Homo sapiens: one gene and its partners. The protein of the gene in region 2 interacts with the protein of the main gene of each other region in a biochemical or structural test. Each region holds a gene or a part of one and is shown on either strand. Other genes may lie near its edges.

The links. Proteins that work in one complex are often made in the same cells at the same time.
Region 1: the proteins of BMP2 (region 2) and ACVR2B form a complex in vitro, tested with the Homo sapiens proteins (one study listed by BioGRID).
Region 3: the proteins of BMP2 (region 2) and FSTL1 interact in a biophysical measurement, tested with the Homo sapiens proteins (one study listed by IntAct).

The regions. Positions count from the first base shown.
Region 1 is NC_000003.12:38,469,567-38,477,994, forward strand, and holds part of ACVR2B (activin receptor type-2B precursor), read left to right. Parts: exon of another isoform or gene 1-1,974; coding exon of another isoform or gene 1,975-2,023; intron 2,024-7,720; coding exon 7,721-7,928; intron 7,929-8,294; coding exon 8,295-8,404; intron 8,405-8,428. UniProt on the Homo sapiens protein: Transmembrane serine/threonine kinase activin type-2 receptor forming an activin receptor complex with activin type-1 serine/threonine kinase receptors (ACVR1, ACVR1B or ACVR1c).
Region 2 is NC_000020.11:6,776,805-6,782,033, reverse strand, and holds the end of BMP2 (bone morphogenetic protein 2 preproprotein), read right to left. Parts: intron 3,790-5,229; coding exon 2,945-3,789; 3' UTR 1,788-2,944; downstream 1-1,787. UniProt on the Homo sapiens protein: Growth factor of the TGF-beta superfamily that plays essential roles in many developmental processes, including cardiogenesis, neurogenesis, and osteogenesis. Induces cartilage and bone formation.
Region 3 is NC_000003.12:120,391,888-120,400,315, forward strand, and holds the end of FSTL1 (follistatin-related protein 1 precursor), read right to left. Parts: intron 8,073-8,428; coding exon 7,996-8,072; intron 5,110-7,995; coding exon 5,065-5,109; 3' UTR 406-5,064; downstream 1-405.

The DNA.
Region 1 (8,428 bases), on a different chromosome or scaffold from region 2:
CATGTGAGCTTGGCATTTATACCATCCTGTTCTCTGGTAAACTAAGTTGAGAAATTAAAGTGGTTCCAAATAGTTAATGTCCTAGGGAGATTGGCAGAAGGCAGAAATATAAGTTACCTTTGAAAGGTTGCCCCTTCAAACTTGGCCTCAAAGTAGTCCAACAGAAAAGGCCCCACTGAACATAAGCTCAGTATTCAAAATTCTAAAACCACATGAGGAAACAGTACCATGAATAAAGTCAGAAATAACAAATGTCAGAAGCAGACTTTCAAGAAGTTAAATTACAGAATTCTAAGAGAGATTTGGAAGTAGGCCAAAGTACAGAAGTATCAAAATTGACCAGGAAGTTTTTTTTTAATAGAACTTCTAGAAATGAAAAAATAGAATAATTGAATTTATAAATTGAGTAGAAGAACTAAACAACAGATTAGACATAGCTAAAGAGAGAATTCGTGAATTGGAAGTTGATCTTCAGGAATTACCTGTAATGGTGTTTAGACACAGAATTGGAAATTAGGAAAGGAGGGTTAAGAGACTGGGCAGAATAAGAAGGTCTAATATGCTTATAATAGGAATTTCAGAATCATAGAATTTGGAGATGCAATATTCAAGTTGATAATAGCCAAGAATTTGTCAGAATTGACAAAAAACACAAATCATTAGACTAAAGGCATAGTGAACCCCAAATAGTATAAATTTAAATATATACTTAGACACATACCTTGTAGTGAAACTGCCAAGAGAGAAAGCAGCCAGAAAGAAAAAAACAGAATATCTGCAAAGTTAAATTAATAGCAGACTTTTCAGCAACAGTAGTGGAAGCTAGAAAATAGTGGAATAATATTTTCAGAGAGCTGAGGTAAAATAACAATCTAAAATTTTATGTTCATCTAAATTGCCATTCAGGAAGAAAGACAAAACATTTTGAGAAAAGCAACAAAGGCTCCTCTGCCAAGAGATCTCTACTGAAATATTTTTTTTCAGTAAGGACAGTGATCTCAGAAAGAAAGGCAGAGATGCAGGGAGAGATGACTGTATGGATGCTTACAAAATATAGACACAAATAATGTCTGATTTGGGAGCTGGGTAGTAAGAACAGTGACACTAAATACGGAACACAAGCAATATGTTAAATTAGATGTACATTGGAAGAGTCATTAGAGTTTAAAATATTTAAGTTCCAATGAGGGATGGTAGAGATGTTGATTTAGGCTTTTAGTATAAGTGTACCCATTAAAGTTTATAGGCCTAGCTTACAACGGAATAGGAATGAGATGTATAACTTTAAAAGTGGCTAAAATAGGAAATTTTAAAAGATAATCCAAATAGAGGTAACGGTAGAAAAGAAACAAATTTAAACATACCCAGTAATCATATATATAAACATACCCAGAAATCATAAATGTAATGAGACCGAACTCTAATTAAAAGATGGTGTTAGATTGAATTGGGGGGAGGGAAGAGAGAAAGATTTTTTGTTTAAGTTAGAAAAGGTAATTTTCTCTAATACTAACACACGAAATGTCATATAGCTATGTTAACATCAGATAAAATGGACTTTTTGGCAAAGAGCATTCATTACAAATGAAGAGGGTTACTATATAGTAAGAAAAATTTTATTACCAAGAATATATAAAATAATTTCTGTAACTCAAAGGAAAAGTAATCCAGTAGAAAAATGAGAAAAGATACAAACAAACAGTTCTCAGAAGGAAATGTTAGTAATCACAAGAAGATGATCAGTCTCACAAGTAATCAGGGAAATGCAGATCCAAATTGTGTACCATTTCACACTCACCAGGTGAACCCCAGGTGGGGGCTGTCATCTGTTGGGAACTTGGATTGGCACATCCACTTTGGAGAACAGTTTAACAGTATTTAGTCAGTTGATCTTTAGACTCTATGACCTAGCCAAGAAACGCCCACACATGAGTGCACACACACACGCACACACACAAATGTAAAAAAGAAGTCATGATGGCATTGCTGAGATCAACAAACATAAATAACCTGAGTCCAGTAGGTGAGTGGATACTTAAAGTTATGTGAGGTTATAAGCTTCTGAAATAAATGCACTTCAGGGCTGCAGGAGAGGCAGCAGTATATAAAGAACATGCACTCTAGAGACAGGCTGCCTGGGGTTTGAAGCCTGATTTTGACACTTAATAAGTAACTTGGGTAGGTTACTTAATCTCTTTGTGCCTCAGTTTTTATAAAATGAGGACCTGCACAGGTTTATCGTGAGGATTAAATAAGTTACTCTTTGCAGAATGCTTAGAATAGGACCTGGGATGTAGTGTGAGCTGTATAAGTGTTAAATTAATGCATATCAACCTGGATGGCTTACAAATATATGGATGAAGGACAAAAAGCATATGTATTAGAGATTGTATTTGGTTGCTAGAAATAGTCAAGAGTTATTCTCTTGGGTAAAAGAAATGCAAAGACACAATGTTGGAATATTTTGGGTTTTTTTCTCCCCTATTGTACATGCCGCTCCACAGTGTGCATACACGTGTGTGCATGTGTCAGTGTCTTTATCTGTTATACACTCCAGCCTTCCTTCCTGGCCCCATCTGTCTCTTCAGGTTCCCTCCATCTCTACACCCCAGCTGCCCTTACTCTGCTGCTGGGGAGGTGGTGGAGATGCTGCTTTGTGGAGCTGGGGGCTGTGGAATCATAACATGGATAAGTCACTGCTCTTGGCCCTCCTTCGCTCTTATGGAGGGACCTGCTAGGGCTATAAAGGCAGCTGAGCAGACTCAGGGCTGCCTTTCGAGGGGTGCTGTCTGTGGGGAGAGCTGCCTTTCCTCTCTGGGCAGATGTGAAGGCTGGACACCAGAGGGAGAACACTGGCCCTCCTGAGATGTTCTTGCTTGTCTTCCTCTTGGGCATGGAGGCTTCTGGCAGGGTGTGCCTCAGTGTGCTGGCAGAAGCAGACCTAGATAGATGTAGTGGTGAGTGGCACTCCTTCTCACCTGGTGAGTGGCACTCCTTCTCACCACTACAGTGCCCACAAGGGTGGGGCTGGGCACCTGCTCCCTGGGGTAGGTGGCTGCCAAGGGGCCTCCAGGAGCCAACTGAGCAGTGGTTCTGCTGGCTGCTGGGGTCACAGTTCCTCTAGGAGACACTGGCTGGACTGGGGACACCCAAGTGCAGAGCTCAGGGACTCCAGGGGAGGTGGGCATGGACACTCCACCTCTGAACCATCTCCTCTTCTTTCTCTCCCCATTGCACTTTGAGCCCCTCACAGATGGGACCTTGGTGAGGTTTCTCCCTTTTCTCCTCAGGGCATAGTGGGTATGTCCAAGGCCTACTGGACTGAGCTGCTTCATAGGAGAAACGAACCTCCCAGTATTTGACCTCCCAGTGCGTGTCTTCGAGCATCCAAACTAGCCGGCTTAGGTTCTGCTACCAGGAATGTTGGTTCAGAGTGCAGTCTGCATGTACTGTGTGTGTGTATGTGCATGTACTGTGTGTTTGTGTGAGGGTCGGGGGTGGTGTATGTGGGAGTGGTCCTGCCAGGAGGGATGGTTTGGGGAGCACTGGGTACTTTCTCTCTACTGGCATTAGGCCCCTTGGAGCATAGGGACTGCCCCTTGGGGACACTGCCACTTTTATTTCAGCTTCCTTTGGAGGCCAGCAGTTGGTTTGGCTGTGACTCAGGGATGCAGCAAGCCCCTTGTCCTGGTGTCTGGGGGCCATGCTCACTTACCTCAGGGCTATGAAGCAGCAGGCCTAAGGGGGTACCATAAGCACCCGCATCTTGGGAGCATGGCTTCTCCTCCTGCCAGGTTAGGCGAGTGGGCTGGGGGTCAAGGGGAGCCTCCTGTGCATGGATGCCCTGGCTTCCTGGGTGTGGGTGGGAATCTGTATCTATTAAAAGGCAGAGGTGGCCTGTGGTTGGAGTATTGCCAGAGGCTATAAATAGCTGAGTGTGTGAAGAAGGAGAGTCTGGGGAAGAGAGAGGAATGGGGGAGGCCCCTGGGTCTCCAGGTGGCAGCAGAGCCCTGTGGTGAGGGAGGGGCATGGGCTCTGAACATAAAGCTCTTGTAGGCATGGTGTGACTTGATGGGCTGGGAGTCATACAGGGGACTTGTGTTATGAGGGATTGTCATAGGCAGTAGGGGATGGTTGTGGCTGTAATATAGCCAATGTGCCAGGCAGTGTTCTAACCACTCTTAAAGTGCATTAACTCAATTAGTTCCTACAACTACCCTAGCTGTGAAGTATTGGAGTAGGACTTGAAGTCTGGCCCGCTCACGGCTGCCATTTTTCGCTGGGTTGCCTGTAGGAGGATCTGGTCAGATGGGGGTCAGGTGACATCTTTTTGAAATGGAGTCTTGCTCTTGTTGCCCAGGCTGGAGTGCAATGGCACGACCTCAGCTCACTGCAACCTCCGCCTCCTGGGTTCAAGTGATTCTCCTGCCTCAGCCTCCTGAGTAGCTGGGATTACAGGTGTCCGCCGCCATGCCTGGCTCATTTTTGTATTTTTAGTAGAGACCAGGTTTCACCACATTGGCCAGGCTGGTCTCGAACTCCTGACCTCAGGTGATCTGCCCGTCTCAGCCTCCCAAAGTGCTGGCATTACAGGCGTGAGCCACCGTGCCTGGCCCAGCTGACATCTTGAACCCTTGGGTCCTCTGAGATTTGGAACTCCCAGCCTCTTCACTTGGGTACTGCCCATGGTAGTGGCAAGTGGGTGGTCCCTGACTTATCAGTGGCCTGGAGAGAGGAGGTTACTCTGTTGGCCTCCCTTGTTTGGGCTCCTGCCTCAGCACAGAGGCTTGTTGCTTGTCTGAATGGAGATGGAAACTCTTTGAGGACCTAGGGCTTGGGCTGCAGGCTGAGGCCATCCTTGTTGTCCCCTCCTTTCGACATGTTGCTCTAGCCATGATACCTATACCCTTCTGTCCTTCTGTCTGTCCACCCATCCATCTATGATGTGTTTGGAATGATTCTGCCACTTAGGACGGCAAGGGTCCTGCCTTTGTCGGCTTTCCAGTCTTGTGGGGAAAGCCTGACATTTAGAAAGTAGTTGTCGAGTACATGTGTAATGTTTTATTTCTCATACAAGTGTTCATTGTGTTATTTCCTCTTGAGATTATTTTTGGTTATATTATTGGTACACTTTTTGGATGTCTGAAATAATCCTTTAAGCAACAACAGGCCATTAGTCAAGGGTGGTTAAGTTAGGTGGCAGGGGAAGCACAAGGGCCAGTGGAAATAGAGAGTTTGCCTGGTCTCAGGGGAGAGGGAAGAGCCGAAATCAGAGGAAGGTGGGTAACCTTACGGCCAGAGGTGGTAACTTCCGACTTACGCTAAGCCTAGAAGCCAAACACATTCAAGGGTGTGACATTATGGTGTGGCTGCAGTGAGGGGAGGAAGGTAGGGGAGTGCCCAGCTTCCCTGTCTGCAGTGCAGCTTCATGGCTGGCCCCACAAGTCTCAGGTCTCCACGGACCCCCACTAGAACTGCTGCCGTGGATGCAGTGGGGCCCAGCCTGGGGAGAGGAGGCCCTGTGGCCTCTGGGCAGGGTGCTTCGAATAACCCAGTAATTGGGTGCTGCTGCAGGCAGACAGGGACAATGTAGGTGCAAGCCTCAGTCCTGGCCCCGGTGTGCTTGTTCAGCCTTTGGTCTACTACCCCCACCCCACCCTCTCAGGTTCTCCCTCTAAACCTTAAAGCCACATGCTTGATGAAGGGCCTGGCTGGGGAAGCCAGTGTGTACCCTTGTAAGCCTCTCTGTGGACCCTGAGGCCCTTCCTTTAGAAGAGGCTGAGTCCCAGCTGACTGACTGGTCAGGAGGCCATGCATTTTCCTTTCACAGGTGTCAGAGCCTAGGCCACCTGGTGCAGGATGACCAGAGCTGTGGCTGGGCACTGCCATTCTGATTGGGTGACATTTCGGACCCTTAGGTGCTACCTGGATCCTTGAGATTCGTTGCTTGCTCCTGCCCCTGGAAGAAGCATCCTGTCACTTCAGGGAGTTGCAGAAAGGGGTTGGGTTTGACAGGAGAATGGCCGCTCCAGTGGTGGGGGGCTTCTTTCACCTGACAGCCAGTCAGTATCCTTCTCTCTGGGGTATACCCTGGGAAATCAAGCTCTTTCCTCATGAAGGCCAACAGTAGGGGTGGAGATGAGCGTGAGGATGTCCTTAGGCTACGCTAGTGTTCAGGGTACTTTGCCCTCCCCCAGGGTCAGGGCAGGGTTCGTGTTCTTTCCTACTCCAGTCAGCCTTTCAGGCTGATGGCGAAGTAGGGCTCTTGGCTGCTGGTGGGCTGGCTGTCTGGTGGGATTGACTCTGACCCCTCCCTCCTTCCTGGGATGGGAATAGTGGTAGGAGAAGACCAGCCAGGAGTGGTGCCAGGTCACTGGCCTATGTGGGCCCAAAAAGTGTGGATAGGATGGCTGGATGCTTGGTGCAACTATCCTCTCGGGTGTCTGTGTGGGGTTCTGGCAGTGAGGTTGTAAATGCCACCACCTGCCTCCATTGTGGGCGGCCTATAATGGGGTGCTGGCAGAGCTCTCAGACAGAACCGAACCTCCTTTGGCATCTCCATACTCTTTCCTATGTCAGGGCTATGTGGTTCCTGCGGGTAGTGGGAGTAGACTGGGGCTGGGACTGGAGGTTGTTTTGTAGGGGATGGTGAGGAAGATGGATTTGGGGAATGTTTGAAATCAAGTTTGAAGGAAAGTGTTTGAATGGGCAGGTGGGGGTTGAAGTCGTTGTCCACCTGGATGGCACTTCCTGCAGCAGGTGGAAGGGGGTTCAGAAGTGATGGGGAGTGCCCTGGGGTCATCAGGAGCCTAGCCAGGAGAATGATCTGTGATTGCAGGTTAAGCCACCAGCTAGCTCTCCTCTGCCTGAGGCATGTATTCCCCTTGGTGACTCTGGGAGGCTTACCCTGTACACGCAGGCCTCATTCCTTAAGTTCTCCAGCCCTGCCGAGCACCAGGTGTGGTTGCTGGGTGTAGAAAGGACACTTACAGGGTCCTTTCCATTCCGTATGGGCAGGGAGTTGTGGAGGACCCACTGGCATGGTCTCCCTGGGGAACTGTTGTGAGAAGGGGGCTTGGGGGCAGAGACAGGAGCAGCAGGAAGCCACTCCCCTTTGTAGTTTTCCCAGGTGGTCCTTGAGATCTTTATCACAATCACCTGAGACAGACAGGGGTGATTAAAAGCACATATTCTGCCCCCATTCCCATTGGGATGGGTCTGGATTGGGCCTGGAAATACGTATTTGAATGAACACTGCTCCCCTTTCCCACACCTGCAACATACAGTGATTCCGATGTGCACTGGGGTTTTAAGGGGGCCTCTTCATCGGTTTCTGCTGCAGCAGGGAAGTAGCCCCCACCCCCACGCAGGAGCCTCAGGTGTTGGTGCCCTTTCTGTGCATCTGGACTCTGTCTGTCTGGCTGTTTATCCATCCTTCTGTGGCATTAGGTTTCCTGCCTCCTCCCTTTTGCTTAGGCCTAGGGGCAGCTGTGATGGGCTGCAGAATGAGGTGGGGGCTGGTGCCAGCTGGCACACGTAAATTAAGAGGTGTGGGACGGATGGGTGGCCTACGTCCAGGGGTGAGTGCAGGAGGTTGGTGACCCCAACCCACCACCCGGCCTCCCTCCCTCAGGGTGGCCTGGCACCCAGGACTGGGAGTAGGGGTTTGGGTGGTGGTCCCAGGGGCATGCTCAGTGGTTCTCTTTTCTCTGGGGCACAGGCTCTGGGCGTGGGGAGGCTGAGACACGGGAGTGCATCTACTACAACGCCAACTGGGAGCTGGAGCGCACCAACCAGAGCGGCCTGGAGCGCTGCGAAGGCGAGCAGGACAAGCGGCTGCACTGCTACGCCTCCTGGCGCAACAGCTCTGGCACCATCGAGCTCGTGAAGAAGGGCTGCTGGCTAGATGACTTCAACTGCTACGATAGGTACCCCAAGACTTGCCCTCCTTTCCTCTTGGACCCACCTGCGCTTATACTGCCCACTGGGCCATTTGGGTCTCAGGATGTCTGAGTGGGAGATAAAGGACCAAGAAGGGGCTCTTGAGATGGTAGCCATGGCCCCACGCCCTTCCACACCCTATTTGTCCTACCTTAGCCCTGAGGAGGGGTCTCAGTGTCAACCCCTGGCTGTTCTTCCTTGGCTTTGGGTCTCCTGTAGGGGAGGTGAGTTCACACCGTCCCCCTGGTGTTGCCCATGAGGTGCTCTGTCTGTGAGGAGGGGTTGGCAGGGCAGGCCTGGGGGAGTCTTGCATCCCCCAGGTGAGGGGTATATGGAAAATTCTGTGCCTCCAGGCAGGAGTGTGTGGCCACTGAGGAGAACCCCCAGGTGTACTTCTGCTGCTGTGAAGGCAACTTCTGCAACGAACGCTTCACTCATTTGCCAGAGGCTGGGGGCCCGGAAGGTAAGGGGGCAGTGTGGAAGTGGG
Region 2 (5,229 bases):
TGTAGTGATTATACAGCTTGTTATATAGATCAGGTTTACAGATCATCTCTCCATTCTTGACCTCTTAAGGTACAATTTAAAGCTGCGATTTAAGTAGAAATTATGAAAAGATGGAAGCACAGATAGATCTGTAAGCTGCCCACACTCTCTTTTCCTAATTTTTGAAGGCAAATAATGAACATGGTAACCCGGACGTGCCATACAGGTTAAAACCATGCCAGAGGGGCACATGCAGTCGAGACAAGCACAAAAACAGATGATCAGTTTAACCGATTTTGAAAGGCGGGCCCCTGAAAATTCAGAAATGACTATGTGTGGACTTTTTAAAGCCAACTCTGAAATGATTCCAAGGATCCTATAGAATAGTGAGTGCAATTAAAGACATTCAGTGTTATGTTCATTTTGACTCTTTATTCCTCGGAATGAAGACTGTGAGCTAAAATGTCTGTAACAATGTAGGATGTTTGTAAAAATATTGTTTCTCATGTGAGCTTCCAAGAGGGTCAGAGTGTCTGATTATAAAATCTCTGAAACTAAACTGAAAATGCCAGCATCTATACATATGTACTACATATTACATACATCTTTAGATGTATATTTATGTATTTTATGTTTTATATATTAAATACGCATATGCAAGATAACACATTTTAGTCGACACCATTGAAAACAGTTTTAACCAAGAATATTAGAACCAATGAAGCAGAGAAATCAAAAGGGTGGATGGAACTGCCAAAGGATGAAATTCTTGTGCTATACTCTCATGCTCTCATCTAGAGAATGTGAATATGAGAAAACATGGGTCATTCGTTTTAACATGTTAAGACCGTGCAGTCTGTCCTTCATGTCCATGGCAATAGAGGGTGAAGAACAGCTGGAGAACAAACAAGACCCCAATCCCCTCAGTTGGGTATGATCTAATGGTTCTCACCTAATCAAGAACAATAGAACTAGAGATAAAAAGGAGCTGCAAGATTTTAAAAGTTAACCAGCATTAGTAAAAGATAACTGTCATGCACATTTAAAGATAAGGTTTACATAACCTCATAACCTCCGAACTGTAACTAAGCTCATAGTCATCAAAAGTTAATTCCTAGGAAGAATTTGATTATAACAGTCTGTTCCATTATAAACACACTGTTTTTTAGCCAATTCCAAGGAGATTAGAGGTAGGTTTCACCAATCATGCATGGCAGGATCAGAGGGGATGCAAAGTCCTGGAAACTGACCTAAAATACTGCCAGTAAAATAGTGGGTAGTTGTGGGTGCCCTGCTCTTATGAACATCTGCTGAACCCTTCCTTGGTCTGATTCTAACCCAGGGTACAGAAGCCCTGACACTCTGGTAAGTGTTCAATCTGAGCAGCCTAATTTGACTTCATTCTGTTTGGGCGTCAGTCCAACTGGCAGATGTTCTTATAGAAGCTGATCTCCGACACTTTCCCTTTCTAATTTTCTGGCACCGTTGCCTCTGTTGCATGGGCTATTATCTCTGAAACTTTATCTCGGGTTATCCAGGTTTTGCTTGTTTTGTAGGCTTTAGTTTTCCCTTAAATCTTTCTGCCCCAAAGAAGTTCATTTGAAAAATACTAAATCACTGGTAACACCTTTAGTGCAAATATGACTTATCAAATAACTTGCCTGCAATTTTCCAGCCATTCATTACCTTTCCCCCACCCCCTCTAAAATATATAACTTCAGAAACAAAAATGCAAACACAAGGTCATCATTGTAAGCGCTATACAAATGCACCATTTTCTCTTACAGGTTGGACTTTATAGAATGAAATGCCAGAGATTTGATATTTATTATCTGAAATAGGTTTAACATTTGGAGAAATGTGTTCAAACACACAACCTTGGAAAGAAAAGCAAGCTGATAGGTCAGAGAACAGAGGGTGGGCAGAAAACACGATGTGCATAATTTTGCTGCGTGTTGGGCAAAAAGTTAGAAAACTGGGTTCTTTGGAGAATAAAGAGCTCTCAGATGAGGTAAAGGTAAAACACAAATAAATTTCCAACCCTTGATGAGGGCCACGAGATATCAATTTTAAATATATATGACCACAATATCAATAATGAAGAAATCTTACGTTTTATTGAATACTTTGGCCAGATCAGCCCCTTTGAAGGGATCACTAATTTAGGAAAGAAGAACAACAAACCATCATTCACTTTCCTGCAGGTTCATCGTTTTCCTAATTATTTCTATGGATCCTGCTTTATTCTTTCTGTAAATTAAGGGGCAGGAGGAGAGTTTCTATAATAGATCAGCAATGTCTGGTTCTTATCCAAATATTCCACCTAATAAGGATGTAAATTCTCATGGATTGGACAATCACTCTGCAACATTCCTGAGAATTGAATAATATAATAATCTTGAAAGTCAGCAGAGTGGATTATCCACTTTTTTTTTCTGGACTTGAACTTGTGAACTCAACAGTAGCACTGCAAAAAAGCAAACGTGCTAAGCACTTTGCCAGAGTAACCTTCCATGTAGACTTTTCATCTTAAATACACACAACTGAAAACAACTACAATTTTTGGAAAATTATGTACAAACCCGATACTTCTTTTGATTACATATAAATACAAATTAGCTATTTTTTTCCTAAAAAGTGGTTATAATAGTAAATAAATACAAAATAAATCTGACCATTATACTTCATGTGCTGGGGTTGAACCCATATAAAATGTACAACTAAATACATTTTAAATCTTTAAGGAATAATTCTCTGATTAAAATATTTGTTTTCCCAACTTCTTTTCGTAGATATAAATATATTTTCAAAATAGCTGTTTTTTTTTCCATTCCATTCCATAAATAAAGTCTTCATTGGGAAATATTAAAGTGTCAACTGGGGTGGGGTTTTTTTGTTTGTTTGTTTTTTTCTTTTTTCTAAAATATATATATATATATATATTTATGTATTTAATTTTGCTGTACTAGCGACACCCACAACCCTCCACAACCATGTCCTGATAGTTCTTTAATACAACCTTTTCATTCTCGTCAAGGTACAGCATCGAGATAGCACTGAGTTCTGTCGGGACACAGCATGCCTTAGGAATCTTAGAGTTAACAGAGTTGACCAACGTCTGAACAATGGCATGATTAGTGGAGTTCAGATGATCAGCCAGAGGAAAAGGGCATTCTCCGTGGCAGTAAAAGGCGTGATACCCCGGGGGAGCCACAATCCAGTCATTCCACCCCACGTCACTGAAGTCCACGTACAAAGGGTGTCTCTTACAGCTGGACTTAAGGCGTTTCCGCTGTTTGTGTTTGGCTTGACGTTTTTCTCTTTTGTGGAGAGGATGCCCTTTTCCATCATGGCCAAAAGTTACTAGCAATGGCCTTATCTGTGACCAGCTGTGTTCATCTTGGTGCAAAGACCTGCTTATCCTAACATGTCTCTTGGAGACACCTTGTTTCTCCTCCAAGTGGGCCACTTCCACCACGAATCCATGGTTGGCGTGTCCCTGTGCAGTCCACCGCATCACAGCGGGGGTGACATCAAAACTTTCCCACCTGCTTGCATTCTGATTCACCAACCTGGTGTCCAAAAGTCTGGTCACGGGGAATTTCGAGTTGGCTGTTGCAGGTTTTATGATTTCATAAATATTAATTCGGTGATGGAAACTGCTATTGTTTCCTAAAGCATCTTGCATCTGTTCTCGGAAAACCTGAAGCTCTGCTGAGGTGATAAACTCCTCCGTGGGGATAGAACTTAAATTAAAGAAGAATCTCCGGGTTGTTTTCCCACTCGTTTCTGGTAGTTCTTCCAAAGATTCTAATTTGATAGAGAAAAACAGGGAAGAAAAAAGAAAAGTCTGAATTTCAGTAAGCCAAGTAATGACGTTTGATTATCTATGAGAATTTTTAAACCTCATCGTGGGATTTGATGTAACCCATGTAAAAGTAGGTAACCAGAAAATAAAAATTTCCTCTTTAAATAAACATGGAGCCTCCCTTCTCTCTGTTCTGTAAGTTCATGTCATCATGCATTGCATACCAGGAAACAACCTTTCATAATTCTTTGTTGTGTTTTTGATCTAATACATGAATACTGCTTCCAGGTGGCTATAATAATGGGGGAAATGGTGAAGCATTTCTTTGGAATTCCAGACTTTAGGGTAAAAAAAAAAAAAAGTCAGCACTATAGTTAGTAGAGGTCTAATGAGTGAGGATTTGAGGAAATTATTGCATTTCTTTTTTAAAAAAGGCTTTAATGCCAATCCCTTAAGCAGTATTCTAAAACATTACTCTGCAATTTAGATGATTTACAAATCTCGATATACAGATTTCAGCTTCCTAATTAAAGACTCTGAAACTCAACATCAACGATGACATTTTGCAAAGCACACCCTACTATTTTACTCAAAAGTCCAGAGACAAAGGCATTTACAGGGATCTACTTCTTTGGAAACGTATGGGTGGTACTAGGACACTGTAGTAATTAAGGCCAAACAATTTCAAGAGAAATAGCTTTCCCAACTGTTGTCTGTTCTCTCACCTCTTTATGACCTCAAATATCAAAATCTCATTTTAGATGCTTTTGGAAGAAAAATAAATGACCTGTCTTCTGTTTGCAATGCCTTTATAGTTTTGAAAGATAAACCATGTTAAAAAACCATGTACCTACCCAGTAATAGTGTGCAGGATGGACACAAAACCAAAAAAATAATAAAAATTTACAAAAATATGATTATGATCTCCATGACAAAAGGAACAGTCTCATCCTATTACAGAATAATCCTTCTATATCCACTATCATTATTTCAAAATAGCCATTTAAGTGGGCCATGCACAAAAGCTTTGTCTGATTTAAAATTTCTGAATTTCAATTTTTAAGAAGTATTATTCTCCAAGCAAGTAATATATAACACAGCACCTTGAATGCTTGTAGTCTGCAAATCATCAAAGGTACAACATTATTATTAAACTGGTAGTATATACCATGAGAGTTTGAGACATTTAAGTTTATTTTATTCTAACTTTACCACATCCTATCATTTCACTGCCAACAGAATTTGCCTGCTTCATTCAGAATTCCTACCCAAGTGCTAACAAAATCTATTTTGCCATCGTTCCATGTTATCATAAGAAGAGACTATGTTTTTATTAATTTTACAGTTGTATTTCCCCTAAAGACAAACAGCTGTAAGTTGTGCACTGAATCTAGATGCCTTAGCAAAGGAGAATCATGTCAGATCACTCACTCAAAGGATCT
Region 3 (8,428 bases), on a different chromosome or scaffold from region 2:
ACAACCTTAGATTTAGCTTATATATTCCATGACTCTGGCAATGACTACATTATGCCATGTTCTGTCCTCCCCAAGTGGACATTTCTGAATGCTTTTTGAGGGCATCAGAGTTCTACTCTGGCCGTTTTCTGTCCTTAAGTTTCAACAATGACACAGATTTTAAAGTTCTTTTGTCTTAAAGACAGAAAGGAAAAGATGTATAAATCGGGTTATATAAAGAGTCGAGTTTTCTACAAGGCAAAGCATCTCATAAAGTCAAAAGAAGAAAAACAAACTGAGAAAGTATTTGCCACATTCACAACAAAGGGCTAACGATATACTTATGGAGAACTATGACAAACCAGTAAGAAAAAGACCAGCAACCATTAGAAAAACAAAGAAAATGAAGAAAATGACAAGAACCAATTATTCATGAGATGATATTTAATCTTACAAAAGGAATAATGAATATAAAAAATAAAACAAGGAGTTACCATTTTTCCTCTATCAGAGGCCAAAAAGTTCGAAGGCACAATGTTTGCAAGAATGTAGGGAAATGGATATGCTCAGTTTATGTACTTTTGGCAGTCATGCATACTGGTGCAACTTCTTTGACTTTATAGGCAATCATAGGCAAATTTATAAATGTACACACCCTCTTAAGAGGATGGTTTTATTCACTGTATTTTCTGTGATACAATTTGGATTTTTACCATGTACACATATTATTTTTTCAGTAAAAAAGTTAAATCATTAGGAAAACATTAATTCTCATTGACAGGAAGACCCTCCTTCCTATTCATACAGCAACATTTTACTTCCTATGTCACACCATGCAACAGCCCCCAGCAGCAGTAGGCCAGAGTTGTTTTCATGTCCCATATCCCAGCTAGGATTATTCCAGGGCTCTGAAGGCATCTGCTTAGATCTATCTATGCATTCATATTTTTTCCCTTCCTTCCTTCCCCTTATTTCAGAAATAATTCAAGAGGACTGATGATAACTTGATAAAGAAGCTCTAAAATAAAGCTGATCAAAGTAACATACTTCTTTGCACAATTCGTAATATTAAATTTTGATGAAAGGAAACTTAGCTTCTGAATTATGCTTAGTTTAATAATGTTGCACTTCCTGAATACATACATACTATAACAGCAGAAAAAGTTTTCCCAGAACATGGTGGAAGGTTGGGAAGTTAGCCAAAATTTAAAAGTGGTTGTGGACAAGGTACCCTTCAAACTGGGTTTAAGATTCCCTTCTGAGAATGAAAATTTGAAGAATCAAACTGTAAGAGCAGTAATCTGTAGCAATCACATAACAAAAAAGATTGCCTTTTAATATTTGATTAGCATTTGGGTAATATCCCAAATCCAATCAAAGTGATCCAGCTATAATTTTAGGAAAGCAAAACTTCCACATGACTGAACCGAAGAAACCTTAAACCTCATTGACTATAATATGCTCTTTTGGGAGGCAGAATTATTGTGGGTGGAGAGTGCATGATACATATGAAAATGGCAGGTTGGAAAGCGTTAGTCATGTGTCCCCAAGCAAAAGAGGTTTTAACCAGCTAACGTTCAGCCCACTTGGAACTGTTTACCCCCATGGAATGTGTGTATCAAGGAAGTGCCATTAAGGTTATTTAGCCTGTCCCTGGCAATGATTCCATGTTCCCTGTACTACCTTCCCATGTTTATTTGCCTTCTCACAGGCTACTGCAGTCAGCCTCACTGGATGCCATTTAGTCTCCTAAATCATATGGGGGATTTACGAGTCATTTAATTTAATGTCTTCCCAATACAGGAATGCACCTGCTATGGTTTGAATGTTTATGTCCCCCAAAATTCATATGTTAAAATTGAATCCCCAAAGCAATGGTATTGAGAGGTGAGGCTCTTGGGAGATGATTAGGTCATCAAAGTTTAACCCTCATGAATGGGTAAGTGCCCTTATAAAAGAGGCCTAAGGGAGTTTGTTCACCCTTTTCACCATGTGGGGATGCATCAAAAAGGTGCATTCTTTGAAGCAGGCAAGCTTCAACAAGCCGTCATCAGACACTGAATCTGCTGGTACCTTGATCTTAGGCTTCCCAGCCTTCAGAACTGTGAGCAATACATTTCTGTTGCCTATAATTACCCAGTCTGAGGCATTTTGTTATAGCAACTTGAAGGGACTAAGACACTTTCTGACTTGTCATCACCTTCTACTCCAGACCCACTATCCATGATCCTTTCAAAGAAACTTGTTCTACCAGTCCCCGAGTAAACTTTCCATCCAAGCTGTAGTCCCAGGAGAAACTCTTCAGTCCTTTTTAAGGCTCCTGAAACTCAAATCCACTCTTAGGAAGTAAATGGGTAATGTTCTCACGACTTTATTTGGCCTTAATTGGGGGAAAGGAAACCAATAAAACCATCACTTTAATTTCTTTATTCATCAATAGTATCCGAAAAGGAAGAATCAGGAGTTACAAAAACAAGTTAAATGCAATATAGAAGCCTACTAAATACAAATACAAGTTCACAAACACATATGCAACAGAAACTTGTTTAGATTGTTTCTTGAAGTTTGACTACTTAAAAACATAGGTGTAAAGGAAAGACATTCAGACTGGTCCACGTGGGCTTGTTAGCAGGCAGAGGAACCCTGCTTTCCAAAAACTGATATAGTCCAGAGTCACGGCATGTGGGAATGTTTCCATGGACACTGGATCTTAACAGATGCTATAGTGTTTACAAAACTACACACACAGAGAAAGCCCAAGGAAGCCTGCAGGCTAAGCCCTATGCTTTTAGAGGGCTGAAGGAACCAAACCTAGTTTAATCCTGTTTGTTTGCTCCATGCAAAACTTTATGGAAGACTCCCCAGACTAGGCTATTTAGCAGCTTCCATGAATGGTCCTCAGATCATGTGATTCTACGGCATAGACGACAGCTGCCCTATTTACACAGAAGCTGCAGAACTCAAGAGGAATGTGGATTTGCTCTTGGGAGTTCAATGTTGCAGGGTAGAGTAGTCTTGGATGATAACCATGTTCTAAATGACTAGTGAAGAGACACTGTGGTTTCTTGCTTTTAACAAATTGGTGTACTCTTGCCCTCCTCCCATAGTGTCCAAGGGCTGGTAAAACCTTTGATTAAGGCGTGCTGCTGTGAGTTCTCCAAGGCACTTGGACAGGGAGCTGCATTTCAGACTGAACAAGTGGAGTTTGAAGAGTTTTTAGATGGGATGGATACATAAAAGCTTGAAATGCTAAACAAAGTGGAATTTTCTCCTTTCAAATGAGAACAAGAAAAACTAGAAGGAATTCTATTTTTGGCACAACAGTTTCTCACAGTTGCCTGTGCATTACAACCTAAATAATTTCCTTCTGATGGTCTTTAATCTGCTTTCTGCAAATGAGATCTTATGTCAAGGATTTAATCTTTGGTATTCCAAATGCATCTGAAACAGGGTAGTGAGTGGGGTTAATAATCACAGAAGTCGAAAGACACAGGACTAACTGTAAATGACTGACCTCCCCAAGTCACAGTTTTAGGATTAAATCTCCATTTTCTTCCCCCTGTTGAATCTGAAACTTTCTTTTATCCTCATCTCTAAGGGAATGCTTTCTATTTCCAGCCGGAGGTTAAACATGAAATGCAAATATGAAGACAGAGTGGGGTGGTTCTCTTTCCCACTCTCTTCCTGCTTTACCCATGAGGACTCCATATCATAGCACGACCTGTAGGGTCATCAGGCTGAGATCAAATCTGGTCATCTTGTTTTTGGCCATCTGACATTTCTTGTTCTAGTAACAAGATTTCATTTATTCTATAGAGAAGAAGGAAAAATCACAGGAACCTATCTCCCCTCTGGACCAATGATCAGAACCACAGAATTTATAACTTATCAAATCAAAAGGTTAGTGCATTCTTACCAGCTCACTGAGGAAACTGAGGTCCAGAAAAAAGAAGAGACAGGGCCAACTCACCCTCCTAGTTAGTCGAATGAGCATATTGGTAGGCTGGGATATCCTAAGCCCTGCTTGGCTGCCCTTGTCGCCATCCTTGGGAATACTGATTTGCCTCAACTTCTCAGAATAAATAAAAACAAATTAATGTTTGGATCTTGAAAGTTTTTTATGAAGATGCTTCTTCCCCTGGCTTCGGTCTAAGGCACCCTTGCTCCTCTGGCAGATAGTGGACTGCTGGAAGCTAGGGGGGCCAACTATGGGCTGCATCTAGTATGTGGCAGGGTGGGGGCATCTGGGTTATTTCAGCCCCTGCACCAGGAAGAACCCCAAACTCCTTCCACCTATGAAGTGGTGGGACTACTGAAAAATAATTACAAAAGCTTAATACCTAGTCAAGAAAATAAAATATTAAAAAACAATAATATAATGATAATAATTGAAGAATAAAGTCAACTTGCCAAAAAAAAGTGTTTTACAGAGAAATAGCACCTTTGGTAAAAAGTATTTTTAAAATTTGGTTAGGTCGCTAAGGGGCTCAAAGTATACAAGTATCTGCATCATTTGGGTGTACCCTCCCAGAAACTCCATCCAAGTCTGAGGGACACTGGGTTAACTAGCAGTATGGCTATGTATCTAGAGGCAGTTATTGGGACCAAGAGATGCGTGGATGCTGGAGGTCTGTCATGCTGACGGCAATGGAAAGAGGCTGGAAGCAGAGAGCGTTCCTCTCCGTGGAGCTTCCCAAACCTCTCCTCCGGGGACACCCTGCTAAGTTCTCTCTGGCATCGTGTGCACTCCCTGCAGCCTGCTGACAGATGCAGTAAACTCAAAAGAGGTTCAGATTTGGGTCTGTTCCTCTTTCAATCGTGATGCAGTTTCCTTACTAGCCTCCAGCCCCAGAGCACCATTTACAGTTTCTCTTAAAGCACTCCTAGAAATGAAGGCTGTGGCCCTTCCCTTCCTAGCCAGCCACCTTCATATCCTTTATTGCAAAACAAATAAACAAAATAAAACTCATTGCTATATAAGCAAATACTGGTGATTTGGCGACTGTAGCAGACACTTGTGTATACTGAACTCAGCGCTGAAGTGGAGAAGATGCTGGGATCCAGACACTGGTCTGTGCCTCCTCATTAGATCTCTTTGGTGCTCACTCTCTTGGTCTTTTCAGCTGTTTCCTTTGAGATGCAAGAGAAAATAGGCGTCATGGAAATATTAAACAACTGTTGGAATTTATCTGTTCCTCAAGACTATATAGCATTGGCATTTACAAGCTTATGCTGAATTTTAGTTGTTTACTTGTCGGGCTCCTCCACGGACAATGAACAATTTGAGAACAAGAACTATGGCCTATTCATGACATGGTCATGCAGGGGCTGTTTACTGAATTAAGCTGACTCCATTTGGACTCCTATGAAACAAGCAGATCAGACATTATGGTTCCCATTTTAAGGATGAAGAAAATGATGTTAAATGGAAATGCTACAAGATGTTCTTAATCCAACAAGTCCAAAGAAGTGTTAAGTACAACAGGTTCTGGAGGCAGACTGCCTGAGCTTCAACCATGGCTGTGCTACTTTTTGGGTGACCTTGGGCATATTATGAAATCTTCTGTGTCTCAATGTCTTCAACTGCAAAACCACAGTAATAAAGTACCATCTCTTACAACAGTGCCTGGCACAAAATGGCCAATAAGGACATAAGAAGATGCTCAACATCATTAATCACACGGGAAATGCAAATCAAAACCACTTGACACCCGCTAGGACAGCTAAAATAAAAAATAGCAATAACAAAACCGTTGGTGAGTATGTGAAGAAATTGGAACTCTATGGTGAAGATGTACAGTGGTGCAGTAGCTTTGGAAACCAGTTTGGCCATTTCTCCAAAGGTTAAACATGGAGTCACCGTATGACCCAGCAATTCCACTTCTAGGTAAATACCCAAGAGAGCTGACAACATGTGTCCACACAAAAACTTGTGCGAAAATGTTCCTAACAGCTTTATTTATCAGAGCCCCCAAATTGAAACAACCTAAATATCCATTAAATGATGAATGGATAACACAACATGTGGTATATTCGTATCATGGAATATTACTCAGCCATAAATAGGAAAGAAGTACTGATTCATGCTGTAAGAATGAACCTTGAAAACATTATGCTAAGTCAAAGACAGAAAAGGCTATACTGTTGTATGATACCACTGTAATATGTCCAGAACAGGCAAATTTATAGTTAGAAAGTAGATTAGTGGCTGCAAAGGGCTGGAGGAAGATGAGAATGGAGGGTTACTTCTAATGGGTATGGGATTTCTTTCTGGGATAATGAAAATGTTCTGGAATTAAGATAGTAGTGAGATGATTGACAATCTTAGGAATATACACTTTAAAGGGGTGAATTTTATGGTATATGAATCATATCTCAATTAAAGAAATAAATTTTTAAAACCTGACAACATTGCCTGATATCTAGCAGACACTGGTGTTCCATCCATCGCCCCTTTGTGTTTAATGTCTTGGTGTACACTGGCATGACTTCCTACCTACTGCCAGCACCTGCATCTCTGCCTGAGGCCTTTCTCTGGCTGCTGGAGCCCACTCTGTCCACACACACTGATAGGCCACAAATGCCAGGGAATTAACATTTCCCAGTAGCAGCCCTCAGCCAATGGCTAATGGGAGTTCTTGTAGAAACAGCCCAGCTTCATCCCCACTCAGGCACTGTTATTCCATTCCCAGAGATCCCCAATAGGATTAAGAGTCACTTGTTAACAGTGGTAACATGCCTGAATACACACTCTTCATTACTTCCTTCTCTTTCTGGACTCATTTCCCAAATCTCCCTCTGGTGTTTCCTGGCATTGCTTCCCAAATAAACTATGTGTACTTGCATCCTTGCCTCAGCATCTGCTCTGAGGGGACTCACATCAAACACAGAAACTTAAACATATTAGCTACTATAATTCACTCTGTACTGTCTGATAACTGTACTGTCTGATATTCTAGACGAAAGTAATTCCTATGAAGTTTTTTTCTCTTTCATGGGATTGAACTCATTTGGAGACTCAAGACTGGTGAAATTTGAAAAGCAAAAGACTAGAAGCTTTTGCTTCTGCTTAAACAACCGACATGAGATTTCTATACTATCAGTGACAATGATGACAAAATGCACATTAAGAATGATCAATAAATGGGCAATTACTATTAATAGTAATAGTTCTGTTTACTCATGTCAAATATTTCATATCAATAGTTTAGCAGTTCTTGTGACCATTATATTCCTTAAAAACTTCTATGTCAGAGAGAAGGCTAATACTACTACATTCGGTCTACGGACAGGTAATGGAAGGTGCAATATCCTGTATTAAGACTACATAATAAGCCAGTAGGAGGATGGGCCAGGAGTTCAACAGTTCCACAATATGTCAGAGCATCACTATTCTGCTAAGAACCCTTTCCCCAAGGAAGCCTTTAACTTAATGACATAGAACCTGAACAAAATTCTTATTATCTTCTTGAGTCTCTGGGAAGGAGACTCTTTGTTAACCCCAGGCTATTTTCTAGCCAGACTGATGTTGAACTTAAATCCTTTCTGCTGTGGCCCAAATCCACTGCTTTCATGCTCACTGAGTGCTGACTACATACCAGGCCCTGTGAGACTGCAAGGGTACAATGATGAGCAAGTTACAGAGCCTGCTTTCAGGAGCTCACAGTCTTTGGGTCTGGACACTGGTCATGACAGGATACACACTTCCTTAAACCACGCTCATTTGCAAACCACTTCCACCTCATTTGCAAATCACCACCTGCCTGATTTTGCCTTATGCAGCCACTCACCGAGCTGTAACCTATATGTGTTGAGACCTACTGGGCCCTGTGAGGACTTTATCAGGGAACTGTCTGTATCACAGTTTGATAGTACAGGTGATGGGGTATCACTCAAGATGTACTGTATTGAGCAGAGAGAGCCTCCTTGGTCTCCTGGGGCACTGGGCAGTGTTTGAATGGTATAGGGCCTGATGGCAACAGCAACACCTGAACCAGCACGGAGGCTGCCACTCACCTGATGCTTTTGGAGCTCCTGGACATATCTGGTCATCTCCTCCTCTGTCTGGGTCTGGGCCCCCTTCTGATTCTTTCCTGCAAGAAGAACCAAAGCTCAGAGCAGTAGCAGCTGTGGTAAGCCAGTGAGGAATCCGCCAAGATCTACCTAGAGGCTCTCAATTCATCTCCCATTTAACTTGTGGAAGGAGAGGTGAATTACCCACATTTTCTGAGTATGAAGGCATGAAGGGGCCCTGTGTAATTGATACCTCCAAGGTAACACATTGTAACAAAGCAATCTACCCCAACTCCTCTCTGGCCTTTGTTCCTTTAACTGCTTAGCACATCCCAGCCAGAAGCTGGCCCTACAAAAAAAGTTATGGTGAAAACTTGGATCCTGACACTGGAGATTTCTCTGAGACAATGACTCTCAAGTCATTCATATACCATCA